2 separate regions of the Homo sapiens genome follow, and region 1 is linked to region 2. A link means that fine-mapping ties the variant in region 2 to the expression of a gene that starts in the linked region. Tissue or cell type: whole blood. Region 2 holds a variant in brackets; the other region holds the start of a gene. All regions are shown on one strand. Distances are between the middles of the regions.

Evidence for each region.
Region 1: NSUN7 starts here. The variant in region 2 is fine-mapped to the expression of NSUN7 in whole blood (TOPMed, PIP 0.98).

Annotation. Positions count from the first base shown.
Region 1 is chr4:40,747,586-40,751,979 of GRCh38, reverse strand. It overlaps NSUN7 (NOP2/Sun RNA methyltransferase family member 7), which reads right to left and starts at 2,025. Exons shown (of 12, transcript NM_024677.6): 1 at 1,680-2,025; 2 at 989-1,377. The coding sequence starts at 1,286.
Region 2 is chr4:40,808,893-40,813,286 of GRCh38, reverse strand. It overlaps NSUN7 (NOP2/Sun RNA methyltransferase family member 7), which reads right to left. Exons shown (of 12, transcript NM_024677.6): 12 at 2,103-4,394. The coding sequence ends at 4,348. It overlaps APBB2 (amyloid beta precursor protein binding family B member 2), which reads left to right. Exons shown (of 18, transcript NM_004307.2): 18 at 1-3,260. Among named protein-coding and RNA genes, the nearest start is that of NSUN7, 61 kb to the right of the region's middle. The variant A/G (reference allele first, on the strand shown) is at 2,635.

The DNA of each region.
Region 1 (4,394 bases), 61 kb after region 2:
TCTGTCACCAGGTTAGAGTGCAATGACACCATCTTGGCTCACTGCAACCTCTGCCTCCCAGGCTCAAGCGATCCTCCCGCCTCAATCTCCCAAGTATCTGGGACTAAAGACATGTGCCACCATACTGGGCTAATTTTTAAATTTTTTTTTGTAGAGAGGAGATCTCACTATATGCCCAGGCTGGTCTTTAACGCCTGAGCTCAATCAATCCTCCCACCTTGGCTTCGAAAAGTGCTGGGATTACAGGCCTGAGCAACCACCCTTGGCCTCAGATTGATAACTAACCATCCTTGAGTCTCAAACCCTGAAAGCAAATTAGAAAGGGAAGTTCTACTAAAGTTTGGCTCCTCCCATTAAAGCTAGTGGCTATGAATGGGATAGTCTTAATTGGGGTTGGTGTAATTTTGATATTCATTTTTTAAATTTTGCACCTTTTCTTTTTATTCCGTCTCTGTTCCTCTCCCCATCCTCCCTCACTGGTTTTATATTTGTGAAAGCTCATAAACTAAAATACCAAAAAAGGTAAACACAGGGAATGGAAAGAAATACACAGGGAGGCCAGGCGTGGTGGCTCACTGCCTGTAATCCCAGCACTTTGGGAAGCTGAAGAGGGAGGATTCCTTGAGGTCCAGAGTTTGAGACCAGCCCAGACAATAAAGCGAGACCCCTAAGTCTACGAGGGAAAAAAAAATACAGGGAGAGGGAAATGATCATTGGAATAAATTGTTTCCTTGTTGAATGTAATGACCGCGCACTACACCGATCTAAGGACAAACACAGTGCACGGGGAAATCTGCAATCCTGGGCTGGAAGAGCTAGTTTCATGGGAACCCTAATTCCTTGACACTTGCAATTAACCAAAGATATGCACATGCCTAAAACCAAAACCTGGTGTGAATGAGGGGAAGGGAGGAGGAGGGCTGCATTCCCCAAATTCTCTCGCTATTATTTTCTTTTAGTGTTGATCTTCCAGACTGGCACAACTCACATTTCAGGGCACTGAAAGCCAGCTCATAAGACAAACGCTGAAAGGACTGATCCTCAGACTCGGACAAGGACCGCAGGGGTTCATTCCCATACTTGATTAAGACTTTCTGTGCCGACTTTTCGATTCGAATACCCTGAAAAATGTTGGCTGCCATGACATAAACGGAGTCCGGATAGCCCGTTTTTTCGGGCACACCAGCTGAGCTTTTCCCACCGGACAGAGGCAGGGAAGTGAGTTGGGAGATGATCTCGGGATCTTCTTCGTTCGAAAACTCCAGTTCGCCCGTGGAATTCAGCATGTCTGCCCCTCGCCTGTCGTGAGTCCTTCACCCTGGGGTTAGAATTCCGATGTTCCAGGAAACGGCTTTCCTCGCATCTGCAGCATGGTCTCTGTGAAGAGAGAAGGTGATTGCAGTAAATCACTCTTTCTGCAGCACCCCTGTGGGTGGCCCCCTTCGTTGTGGCCTTAAAGACTAAGAGGGAGCATTTCCCGTCCCATCTGAGTGTCCCAGACTTCGAGCCTGGGACGCTCAAAAAAAAAAAAAAAAGCGAGGAGGGGTGCAGCGGCGGAGGGAGAAGAGCCCCAAGGAGACCGACGGCTTCCCTCAAGCCAGTCTGGGGGCAGAGCTGCCCCCGGAGCCCCGTCCGCGTCCCCACAGCCCAGTCACCGGCTCCCCCGACTCCTCCCTTACCCCGAGGGCGGATGGTTCCCGGGGCTTCGGGGACGAAGACGCGGAGGGCGGCGTCGGTCACAGGCCCTTGGGAGCCCCGGGACTGCGGGGCGACGGCTGCTGCCCGCGAAGGCCGTTTGGTTCAAATGCAGCCACTCCCACCGGCAGGATTCGGGGCAGGGGGGTCGCAGCCTCTGGCGCCCGGTTCGCTCCGGTGTCGTGAAGTGGTGGGCGCCTCGGGGCCTCGCCTGGCCTCGCGCGTGAGGCCTTCGCGGACGTGGCGGCGAAGAGGGGTGAGCGCGGTGCCCGGGGTCTGGCTGGCTCAGGCCGAGGAAAGCTCAGCCTCCCGAGTCTCCGGCAGTCGACTGCTCCCGGACCGGGTCTTCATGGCAACCGCGAGCGGAGGTGGGGCAGGGGGCGCGGCGCGAGGGCCGTTCCCGCGGGATTTGGCGGGTGCTACCTGTTGCCGGGAGAGTCGCTCTTCCCCCAGCGCGCGGAGACACCTGTTTCAGCCCCTCCGAGCCAGAGGCCTCTTGCACAGTTCCTGGACCTCACCGGGCCTGAGTGCGTGCCCTTGGCTTTGTTTATAAACATTTGGGGATATTTTTGAGGTAGTCTGACGTAGTTCCGTGGTTTTAACTCACAAGTTCCTGAAGTCCCTGTTAAAACTACACATTCTTTAAAATATTTTTAAAATATAGTAATAATTTTTTTTTTGAGACATGGTCTCGCTCTGTCGCCCAGGCTGGAGTGCAGTGGCGCAATCTCGGTTCACTGCAGCCTCCTCCTCCCGGGTTCACGTGATTCTCATGCCTCAGCCTCCCGAGTAGCTGGGACTACAGGCGCCCGCCACCACACCCTGCTAATTTTTGTATTTTTAGTAGAGACAGGGTTTCACCGTGTTGATCAAGTTAGTCTCGAACTCCTGACGTCAAGTGATCTGCCGGCCTTGGCCTCCCAACGTGCTGGGATTACATGCGTGAGCCACTGCGCCGTCTGTAATAATTTTTTTTAATAACAGAGACAGGGTTCCCATTATGTTGCCCAGGGTGGTCTCGAATTCCTGGGCTCAAGGAGTCCTCCCTCCTCGGCCTCCCAAAGTGCTGGGATTTCAGGCGTGAACCACCGCCTCCAGCTAAAAAAAAATCCTTGGAACCCATCCTAGAGATTTGAGTTGCTAAGACCCAGTAATTTGCATTTTTATCAGGTAACTGGCGATTCTGATGCAATCAGCCCAAAGACCACAGTTTGAAAAACTCTGGTATAGTTGAAAGACAACTGGTCCTAATTCCACCTCTGCCTTTCCTCCTTAGGGATTTGCCCTTCCTTCTTTAGGCTAAGGCCATTTCCATTTCCAGCCAGTGGTTAGTAGGATGAAGGGGAAAGAGAGGGCAGCCCATATTTTTCAATGACCTGAAAGGTGCACATATCACTTTGGCTCACATTTTATTGGTCAGAACTCAGTCATATACCCAGCAACCAAGAGGCTGGTAAATGTGTCCAGCTAAAAATAAGGGAACTATTACTGTAGAAGAAGGAGAGAATGGATAATGGGGAAAAAATTAGCAGTACAGAACTCTAACCCTGACCCCTTCTCTCAGAAATCCACCCACTTTCATTATCCCCGGAATACGTTAAACATTCCGTAACATTTTATGTATACATGCATTCATTCGTTCGTTTAACAAGTATATATTAAATTCTTGCTGTGTCCCTGGCATTGTGTTCAGCCCTACAAGTAAAATAATGAATGTATAGAAATGATCAGACACCTGACCGGGCGCGGTGGCTCACGCCTGTAACCCCAGCACTTTGGGAGGTCGAGGCGGGCGGATCACGAGGTCAGGAGATCGAGACCATCCTGGCTAACACGGTGAAACCCCGTCTCTACTAAAAATACAAAAAAATTAGCCGGGCGTGGTGGCGGGCGCCTGTAGTCCCAGCTACTCAGGAGGCTGAGGCCAGAGAATGGCATGAACCCGAGAGGCGGAGGTTGCAGTGAGCCGAAATTGGGCCACTGCACTGCAGCCTGGGTGACAGAGCCAGACTCCGTCTCAAAAAAAAAAGAAATGATCAAAGACCTTGCCCTCAAGAAATTAAAGATGGATATATTTGTATTTTGTCACCTTTTCATTTTTGTTATAAAGATTCGTGTACATACCTGCATTACCCCCCTTCTGCCATCTTTCTATCCACACAACACACACACTCTAAAATAGTCTTGTTTTATCTTTATCTTTTCATTTTTATTATATATCTTTTTTATTCCCAGATGCTAGCAAAATATCACTCTCTTTCACATACAGACATTCACAGAAGATTACAAATATGGAAGGTGTCTTAGAGGTCATGATATATTTTATCATGCATCACCCAGTACACAGTGATGTGAGGCAATAGCTAGCTATAAACTTTGAAATATTGTCATTCAAAATATAATTTGAAGAGTTTATTTTCTTTAATAATAGTTCAATGTAAGTAACAGTTTACTATATTGAAAACAAGGTTTAACGAGTCTCTATCCCCAAGGTAGAGCTTAGGCAAAGAGTTGTGGGGTTAGCAAATTCATGGTTACTATTTACTTTAATCATGTATATAATCCTGCCTCCTTACTTCTCACTCCTGGTTTATAGCCTCATTGTGGACTTAATGTATTTGAGGGGAGGGTCAGAGGAGAGCATATTAAATTTCAGTGAACACTGTAAAAAAGTAACCATAGAGACAGGCATATGAGTT
Region 2 (4,394 bases):
TACTGAAATATACTGCATTATTGTGTTAATGTATTATCTTTCCTGGATATTATCTCCCAGTGTATCCAGATCTAAGTAATCTCAGTGAACTATACATTGCCTAAAAAGTGGTTTTGTAATGATTTGTAGTCACATTTCTATTGGGATATGTAGAAGAAAAGGCAAAATGCTTAAAGTTCCTTTTATTTTTTAAAAGCAGCTAGATAGACACAGACTTGCCACCTCATACATCTGCTCCTTGGCAACATCAAGGGGAACGACTAGCCAACATGCCTATGGCTAAAAACTTTCCTTTGCAGACTAAAGCACTGCTTGGTGCTTCGTTTTTCTACCCTTCACAACATGTGTGATTTCATCTAAGAGATATATACATGTACACATGCCCTTTGTTTCCACCTGGATACAAGATCACTCATAGCTAATTAGGACCATTGTTTTTTGTTCATCTGTCTTGTTGCATGAAGGGACATTAGACCCATTTCCATTAAAATAAGTTCTTGGTGATAAACTGTGGCACTGCTACTTCTTTTTAAATCCACTTTATGATTTCAAGATGGACACTTGTAAGATGACTCGACACAAGGCCATTGCCTGGAAGCCCCAGAGCTTTCCTCTGTTTGTATGGCCCGTTCATGTCCCAGGCATTGCAACACAAACTCCTCAAGATTTCACCACAACATGACAAGCATTTTCCTAACTGATATTAGCACAATTTAACTAATAAGCCCCTTCGCTCTCTAGTTGGCCAGGCTTAACCTAATACACATCTAACGTGTGTGCCACACGGCCAGTAGAAAGTTTAACTTCAGCTTCAGGGCAAAGATACCCACTCACACCGTGTCAACGCAAGCAGTAGTTCCTGGCCTCCAGAGCAGCTTACTTCCCCTGAAAGAACGCTTTGTTTTCCTTTATGCCCTTTTCCTGTTGACCACTTTTACACATTTAAATGTAATTTGTTGTGAGAATAAATTTAGCTGCATAAAACGTTCGGCTCATTTATCTGACATCTTAGTCACATATACAAGGAATAGAAATAGAAACTCGGTGTCTCTAGTTATTTTTAAATTATTCTTACCTCAGACTTCTTAGAAATCACTTTAGTAATGGAGCATTTTGCTTTGATTAGTTACTACATATTTCTGCCTGGTAAGAACTAGGAAGTAACTTCAAATTTTGAGTAATCACCCTGTACTTATTTGGTGATCAGGAAGGCCAGCTGGCCTTCCGGACATAGAAGCCTATTTAGTCACCAACTCGAGTCTTTTGTAAGCGGTCTTGCTAGGATTGTGATATTTTAGCACGAAGAAGTTTATCACTTCCTTTAAGAACCTGACATCAAAGAATAAAGAATAGAGGTGTACACACACTAAATCCAAAATGAAAGGTAACTAGAGAAATCAGTTGAATCTGGTTTAGCTTAACTGTTAGGCGCAGGAAGGCAGATAAACAGAATTTAAAGTATGTCCCCGCTTTTTGTTCATCTTGCACTTCCACAGTGGTTTCTCTCTAGTCAGTAACAAAATTTCATTATGGTTTCAGGCATTATATGGTGGTAAATAATTTCAGATTAAAAATGTGTTTGCTATTGGAGTATCTGAATACTAGTAATTTCATTATTTAGAATTTTGCAGCACTTTTATCTCAAGAAGAAGTCCAAGAATGTAAAATGCCAAATGAAACATGTCAGTGGAATCAATATTCTCCTTCATTAGAATTCCCTCATATTGCTTTTTTTTTTTTTCTTCAGACAGAGGAGTCTTACTCTGGAGTGCAGTGGTGTAATTTCAGCTCACCACAACCTCCACCTCCCAAGTTCAAGCAATTCTCGCCTCAGCCTCCTGAGTAGCTGGGATTACAGGCATGCACCGCCACGCCTGGCCAATTTGTATATTTTTAGTAGAGACAGGGTTTCGCCACGTTGGCCAGGCTGGTCTCGAACTCCTGACCTCAGGTGATCCGCCCGCCCCAACCTCCCAAAGTATGTGAGCCACCACGTCCGGCCTCATATTGCTTTTATCCAAAATTCTTTTCCCTTTTCACTCTACCAAAGTATTTAAATAATCCTGTCCTTCATAGAAGATTCTCAAAGAAGAAAACTGCAGTGTAATTAATGAATGGTTTAATTCAGAATCTTCATATACTTCTAAAGAGAAAAATAATTTAGTGCCAAATGCATGTTAGGAGATAATCAATGTAAGTGGCAACAAATTGTGACTTCACATGCTACTGTAGAGATCAGAAAATTATCCTAAACTATTCCATAACAATGAGACAACATCACAGAAAATACACTTGAAAATAAAAATCTCAAGACCAGCTACTTCTGGACAATGGAATACTTTTCAGTCTGGTATGGTGGAGGGCCCGAAAAGGATAAGGGATTCTTATGATACACAATGGGATTCTTTACTGAACAATATGTTAAATTAAGCTGCACCGCCTTCCTTGAGGCATGGACTACCCTAACCAACCAGATAGAAATCTGGGTGGGATAAGAGGATGAGCCACACGCTATAATTTTAGGGCAAGGAGATAGTGTTTGATTTTCAAAATCAGCAAAATAAGCTGAGCACTTTATATCTTTCTGTACAAGAGTGATAACATGAAGAATTCTTCTTCAGGGATTTAAAATAC[A/G]ATAAGCCTGGTTCAACTATAAAAAGTCTTGTTTCCTTTCTTCATTGACACTTTTTTTTTTTTTTTTTTTTTTTTGAGGCAAGGTCTCACTCTGCTTCCCAGGCTGGAGTGCAGTGGGGCAATATTGGCTCACTGCAACCTGCACCTCCTGGACTCAAGAGATCCTCGTACCTCAGCCTCCTAAGTAGCTGGGACTACAGGCGTGTCCCACCACACCCAGCTAATTTTTGTATTTTTTGTAGAGATGGGGTTTTGGGGTTTCGCCATGTTGTCCAGGCTCGTCTGGAACTCCGGTGCTCAAGTGGCGTGCCCACCTCAGCCTCCCAAACTGCTGAGATTACAGATGTGAGCCACTGCACCCAGCCCACTGACACGTTTTACTGATAAATGTAAATCTAAGCTAAAATAAAAATAATGTATTACCGCTATAATACAATTCACCATTCTCTTTTCTCACTTCAAGTAAGAAAGTAAAAATAGAATATCAGAGCTGAAGTAGACCTAAGTATTCATCTTGAAGAAGATAATATTCTAAAAATCATGCCACCTGAATTGAGCATTTAGGAATTTATGTAACATTTCTATACAACTGAATTGCAAAAATAAAACTTTAAATTCAAACTTTATGAATATGTCTATGAATGTTTTTAAATAATAAGATATATAGTTGTATCTTAATTCTATTTAATGACAATTTCTGTTGCCATGATGAAAAATCAGTAGACCCAGAAATGATAATCATACCAATTTTTGGTAGGCAATTGAGAATACATTCAAGATGAATCGACATTTAATATAATTAATTAACATAGTGCTACAATATATTTAATTGTGCCTCAGAAATGATTTACCAAAGTTTGATTCCTGTGTGCTATTTGAAATGACTTGTAGATTTTGTTGTATCCCCTGATCTTAGAATCAGAAATTTGTGGGTTTCTTCAACAATAGGTATCGCTTGCATTCAACAGTTTTGCCTCTTCTTCAGAATTATTAATATTTAGATGGAAATTTGCTCACAGTCTTTTGTAACAGTGCTTGACATAGAGGAAGGGAGAGATGATTGTGTCCAGTCTGCTCAGGATCCTGGAAGCTCCCCCAGTGAGAGACACCTCACTGTAAAAGGAACTCTGAGCTACACACACCTGGCACTTGGGAACTTCCTGCGCTTCCTACTTAAACTCAACTTCAGTCACGTTACAAAAACTCATGTTCATTCCCTGTTCAAAGAACAGCTTGATATTTAAGAAAAAATCACCCTTGATCGTGACTGAGAAAGTCACGACTACAACCGCATGGATGCTGAAGAGCGGTCAGCTGGCGGGAGAGGCCAGGATCGTTTGCCTGTTTGGCTTTCTAATGAGCTACCTGCTGAAGGGAGGCAGTGTTTCCTTCCCTGCAGGGGAAACTTGGCAGCTTTAAGTCCAGCCTGAAAGTTCACAGGAGTGAGATAAGTTCTGACCGCTGATACTGAGTCTCTAACTGGATCCTCTCAGAGCAGCAGTGATTGGCTGAAGTCTCTGAATTCTGCTTTGCTGACTCCTACATTATTGTTTCTCACTTGTCTGAATTCTCTGAAAGTAATATCACACTTAGAAGATCCCTAGGTGACCAAAAGAATGAATATCTTGTGTAGAGATGTAGAATCTTCAGAGAAATACTAGACTTTGAAAAAAAATCAACTGCTCTTTGGCCCCTATAAAAAACACAAGACAATCAAAGCCATCGCCGAGGAGGCCTGAGTAGGGAGGAAGGTGTGTCAT